Linked DNA regions of Homo sapiens: region 1 is linked to region 2. A link means that fine-mapping ties the variant in region 2 to the expression of a gene that starts in the linked region. Tissue or cell type: cerebral cortex. Region 2 holds a variant in brackets; the other region holds the start of a gene. All regions are shown on one strand. Distances are from middle to middle.

What was found. PIP is the estimated chance that this variant, and not a neighbour inherited with it, causes the effect. A credible set is the group of variants that fine-mapping cannot tell apart.
Region 1: PPP1R1B starts here. The variant in region 2 is the best candidate, but not a certain one, in a credible set for the expression of PPP1R1B in cerebral cortex (GTEx, PIP 0.72).

The regions. Positions count from the first base shown.
Region 1 is chr17:39,625,774-39,628,670 of GRCh38, forward strand. It overlaps PPP1R1B (protein phosphatase 1 regulatory inhibitor subunit 1B), which reads left to right and starts at 1,179. Exons shown (of 7, transcript NM_032192.4): 1 at 1,179-1,700. The coding sequence starts at 1,620.
Region 2 is chr17:39,653,036-39,655,867 of GRCh38, forward strand. STARD3 (StAR related lipid transfer domain containing 3) reads left to right here. Exons shown (of 15, transcript NM_006804.4): 2 at 446-715. The coding sequence starts at 497. Among named protein-coding and RNA genes, the nearest start is that of TCAP, 11 kb to the right of the region's middle. RefSeq lists an enhancer at 967-1,528. The variant C/T (reference allele first, on the strand shown) is at 1,507.

The DNA.
Region 1 (2,897 bases), 27 kb before region 2:
GAGCCCCAGGAAAACATGCATGTACACGTCTACACACACCCTCTCAGTGCTAGACAGAAGCATTCAGACCCTCTGCACAGCTCCAAGGAGGGAAACAGCAGCTCCTGCAAAGGCACCCAAGGCCCGGACAAATAGACCAAATAGACAGGGACATTCCACCCACAGGGCCAGCTCCTCCCGCTCCCGCTCCAGAGACACACACAAATACCTCTGGAGAGAGAGAGGCTCACACCTGTCTCCCCCAACCCTGCTTCTGAATGCACCAAATTCATGCACGTGATGGCACGTGTACAGGCAGCCCCCAAACCCACCCCAACTCTGGGCCGGCCCTGTCCTCCCCACCCCATTAGATCCGGAGAGGAAAGACAGGAGCCACGTGAATCTACAGTACATCATGGCAGGGCACATTCCCCTTCTCCCTCACAGGAGCGCTCACACATCCACAACCTCATACCCCAGCAACTGCACAGCGGAGCTGTGGATACAGTCCCCCACCCCCTGCAAGCTGGCACACGCCTGCCCATCACCTTGACAGCCTCTGACATCCTCCCCCACACCCACACCCTCCCCCGCACACACGCAGTCCTCCCACACCCTGCCACTCACACCTGCATCTTTGACACTCTGACACACTTACACAGACACACTCACACCACACCGGACCCCCCAAAACACACTCCCTGGCTATGGGCACCACAGGGCCCCGGCACACCCCTGCACACTCTCCCTGCCACGATGACTGACACGTGTCCTCCCACACACAACTCGGTCACACTCGCTCCCTTTCCAGGACACCCCCATTCACAGCGTGACAGGCTGGTACTCTCCCCACGACCTCGCAGGCCTCTCTGAAACTCCCAGTACCAGGACCACGAAGGGGTTAAAGCCAGAGTCCTGCCTCCCCGCTGCCCCTCTCCCCCTCCCTCCCCCTTTATCCTCTCTGCTGGACTCCATCAATAATGCAGCTTCAAGTTCTGGGGAGACCGCAGGGGGCCCCCCAGCTGGCTCCCCAGGCCTTGGCTCTAACTCCCACCCTCCTCCCAGCCCCAGGAGAACACGATTCTCCATGCTCATTGGCCAGTTTCCCCTAAACCCTCCCTCCGAGCACCCGGGCGCCAGTCCCAGGCGGAGGGGACGGGCTGGGGACCCCAAAGCTGGGACCGGAGGGTGAGCCCGGCAGAGGCAGAGACACACGCGGAGAGGAGGAGAGGCTGAGGGAGGGAGGTGGAGAAGGACGGGAGAGGCAGAGAGAGGAGACACGCAGAGACACTCAGGAGGGGAGAGACACCGAGACGCAGAGACACTCAGGAGGGGAGAGACACCGAGACGCAGAGACACCCAGGCCGGGGAGCGCGAGGGAGCGAGGCACAGACCTGGCTCAGCGAGCGCGGGGGGCGAGCCCCGAGTCCCGAGAGCCTGGGGGCGCGCCCAGCCCGGGCGCCGACCCTCCTCCCGCTCCCGCGCCCTCCCCTCGGCGGGCACGGTATTTTTATCCGTGCGCGAACAGCCCTCCTCCTCCTCTCGCCGCACAGCCCGCCGCCTGCGCGGGGGAGCCCAGCACAGACCGCCGCCGGGACCCCGAGTCGCGCACCCCAGCCCCACCGCCCACCCCGCGCGCCATGGACCCCAAGGACCGCAAGAAGATCCAGTTCTCGGTGCCCGCGCCCCCTAGCCAGCTCGACCCCCGCCAGGTGGAGATGGTAAGGGGCCCGTGCCCCACCCCGGCAGCGTACCCGACACACCCCGCGGGGCTTCTTCGCCCTCCCAAGGCGCTGCCCCGGCCGGACTGGCCTGGGGGTGGGGGCGCAAGGAGAGCCGGGCTCTGCCTCGGTCAGGACGGGGCGCGGGGCCGCGTGTGAAGTTAGCTGGAGACTCGTGCAACTTTTCCCCGCGGCTTTGGTCCTGATCCCGGGGCAAGAGAGTTCCTGGCAGTGAGGCTGGGGGTGCGGGGGTGGGGGGACAGGCCGATTCCAGACCGCCCAGGAGTGGGGTGGGGGCGTCCTTTGGTCCCAGCACAGTCCCCAAAGGGTAGTCAGTCTCCTAGGCTACCACCGGGACCGCTCCGCCTGGCTCTGTCCCAGAGCTGGTCAGATGTGAGCAGCGGTGGACACTGACCTTGTCACCCAGGGCAGGAGTATGAGGCTGCCACCGGGTGAATCCACTACCCTGCCCCTCTCTAATCCCGCGTGTGTGCCTGGGCTGGGGTCTCCAGAACCTGGCTCTGGCCTCCTGCTGTCAGGCCCCAGAGCCCCAACCCCAAGGAGGGAGAGGTGGGGAGTCATCACAAAGCCAGACCTCTTCCCACAGACTACTGAGTCCTCCTGAGGGCCTTCTTGGGGGTTGAGGGGCTTCCAAAGGCTGGCGGGTGCTGTGACAGAGAGCTCCACTTCCCATCCCTAGTGGAGCAGGGGTCACTTGTTGCTGAGCTGAGATGCAGCTGGCTCCCCACTGAGCAGTGATGAGGGGGCCAAGTCATTATGGGGGGAGATAGAGGGCAGGGGGTACAGTCCTGGGCCTAAGCAGCTTTGGGTCATGAGGGTGTCATGGGGAGCTTGGCTGGGGAGGTGGCAGTTTCAGCTTAACTCACCTGGTTCTCTTTGTGCATTTCCCTGGAGCTCAACAGGGACCTAATTAACTGACAGTTGGTCTGATTGCCAAGCTGAGGGGCGGGGCGGGGAGGGGGGCGGTCAGTTGCTGCTTGGCTCACGTAGCAAGGAGGGCAACTTTTCATTTCTCACAAGGACTGGGTGAAGAGTTCTGCAGCCTTACAGAGACTGGAAAAGAAGCCCAAACCAAGGCCCCCAGAGAGGTCCCCCAGGCCCCTTTGGGTCCCTGAGCCTCAGCTGGAGGTGGGGGGTGCCTGCAGTGCGCTGGCTCAGTCTCCTTCTGAAAAGCTG
Region 2 (2,832 bases):
GAGGGAATGTGGCTTTGTGCTTGGAAAACAAAGAACAGAGCTTGGGGCCCTCTTCTCCTGGGGGTGGTGGCAGGCCCAGAGGCTGTTGACAGGACCAGAGGCTGGAGCTCAGGGCTAGGCCTGGTAGGAGCAGGCTACAGCCCCAGGGATCCAGGAGGGGGTAGGTGCCCATGCAGAGGGACCCCAGAGCCCTCCAGGGGTGAACCCTGTGGCTGCTGGGCTTGGGGCAGGGAGCACCAGGAAGGAGGACAGATAATTAGCGGAATGCTCAACCCTGCAGCCTGGGAGCCAGGCTGGTGGAGGACATTTGGGCAACAGTGCCCTGGGCCCTGGGCTTGGGACCCAGTGTAGAGACAAATGCGTTTGGGAGCCAGTGGTGGCCCTGGTGGCTGTGTGGGAGGGACAGGAGGAGTTTGACAGGACTCTGCCTCTGCCTCGCCCCCAGCCCTGCTGCTGAGGCCGCGCCCTCCCCGCCCTGAGGTGGGGGCCCACCAGGATGAGCAAGCTGCCCAGGGAGCTGACCCGAGACTTGGAGCGCAGCCTGCCTGCCGTGGCCTCCCTGGGCTCCTCACTGTCCCACAGCCAGAGCCTCTCCTCGCACCTCCTTCCGCCGCCTGAGAAGCGAAGGGCCATCTCTGATGTCCGCCGCACCTTCTGTCTCTTCGTCACCTTCGACCTGCTCTTCATCTCCCTGCTCTGGATCATCGAACTGAATGTGAGTGGGGGCGAGGTGGGGGCACAGGCCATGTTGCAGGCCACCCGGGCCTCAGTTTGTCCATCTGCCACATGGGAGGGCTGCCTCTCCCCTGGGGTTGGTTAGCTGGGTAAAATGAAGACTGGGAGGAACAACAGGGGTTCTCATATTCTGAATGAAGGAATGTGGAGGGGTTCGGAGGGGTTGTGTCATTTGGCCAAGGTCCCTCTGCACCCAAGTGTGTGAAGGCAACGGCCTTGAACCTACCCTCCAGCTGAGTTCATGCTCTTGGCCTCTGCCCCATACTGCCCCCTAGTGGAGGCTCCCGAGAGAGGAGGAGGGGGAGACCCAGCTCTGGCAGAGCTGTTGAAACCTTTGTCTTCTTTCTGCCTGCCACTGCCCTCTGGCTCCAGTTGGTTCATTCATTCGTTTGTTCGATCATTCATTCATTCATTCATTCATTCATTCAGCAAACATTTTTTGAGTCTCTGCTGTGTCCCAACCACTGTGCTAAAACCAGACGCTAGCCAGGTGTGGTGGTGCACACCTGTTGTCCCAGCCGTTTGGGAGTCTGAGGTGGGAGGATTGCTTGAGTCTAGAAGTCTGAGGCTGCAGTGACCCATGATTGCACCACTGCATTCCAGCCTGAGTGACAGAGTGAGACCCTGACTCAAATAAATAAGTAAATAAAAGCAGAGGGCACAGTGGGAAGCAAAACAGGAAAAACTCCCAGTTCCCAGTGGCTCTAATGAGATGCTGCCGGGCAGCCTGGAGACCAGAGCTGCCCCACCCCCACCCCACGCAGTGCTTGG[C/T]CCACCCTCAGGAACACAGTCTAGTTGGCAGTGGCCTGATCTGGTCTCCAGGCAGGGCCAAGCCCACATAAGCAGGAGCCCTGGAAGCAGGGCACCCCAGGCTCAGTTCTGTCCCAGCTCCTCCTCGGCTTTGGCCCGATGACCTCAGCAAGGGACTCAGCCCCTTGAGTCCTCCCCTCGTTTTCCTTCTGCAGCATGGGCTCCCCATCAGACTTCCGGATGGCAAGGGCCCTTCCTCCAGGTCTCATGCTTATGTGACAAGAAAACAATGTCTTGTTAATAGAGGTGATGAGCTCAGAGAAGGGGCCAGCTCCGGGCAAAGAGATTAAGTTTGATTCTGGGCATGTTGAGCTGGAGGGAGAGACAGGGCTCTGAGGGTGACTGTCGATTGTGCACCAGAGATGAGCTGGCACCTTCAGTGAGCTGGAGCCATGGCCATGGATGGCCCTAGGGGCCATCTTACCCATGAAAAAGCTGTGGCCCAGCAGGCTCAGGACCTTCTGCAGAGCTTCTAAGGTCTTAGGCAGACTTCCTTTTCAAGGTCCCATCCAACATCAAAGCAAACACTAAAACTTACCTGCATCCTTCATTGAATACTTGTTTCCTTACCCAAAAAGAGCTGAAAAGATTTTGATAATTTTACTTTCGTTTTGTTTTGTTTTGAGACAGGGTCTTGCTCTATTGGCCAGGCTAGAGTGCAGTGATGTGATCATAGCTCACTGTAGCCTCCAACTCCTAGATTCAAGGGTTCCTCCCACCTCAGCCTCCCCAGTAGCTGGGACCACAGGTGCATGACCACATTTGGCTATTTTTTTTTTTTTTGGTAGAGATGGAGTCTCACTATGTTGCCCAGGCTGGTCTCAAACTCCTGGGCTCAAGTGATCCTCCCATCTCGGCCTCTCACAGTGCTGGGATTAGAGGCATGAGCCACTGTGCCTGGCCTCTGTAATTGTGCTTTTGAAGTTATTTGGCTGTGTTGGCTGCGATTGCTCTGCAGTCCTCATGCGTACCTGGGAATTCTTGCAAAGTGAGAAGATCTAACTTACTAATTGTTTTCAGATGTCATGAAACATTTCAGAATCCTGCACTGAACAATTAGTAGAGTCCACATGATGTTTCCCTTGGCAGACATTTAATTAAAATTGTATTGATTTTCAGTCTTGTAGTTTTACTTTTGTATTTGGGAGCATATATTTTTAGTTCGCTGACAGACTGTGTCTGTGTTGCCCAGTGGTTACAAGGACTCAGTAGGGTCGTGCTGAGCAGGGGGTTTGGAGCCAGAGAGTGGCAAAGCAGGGGCTGAGACTTGGCTCTCCCGAGTCCTGA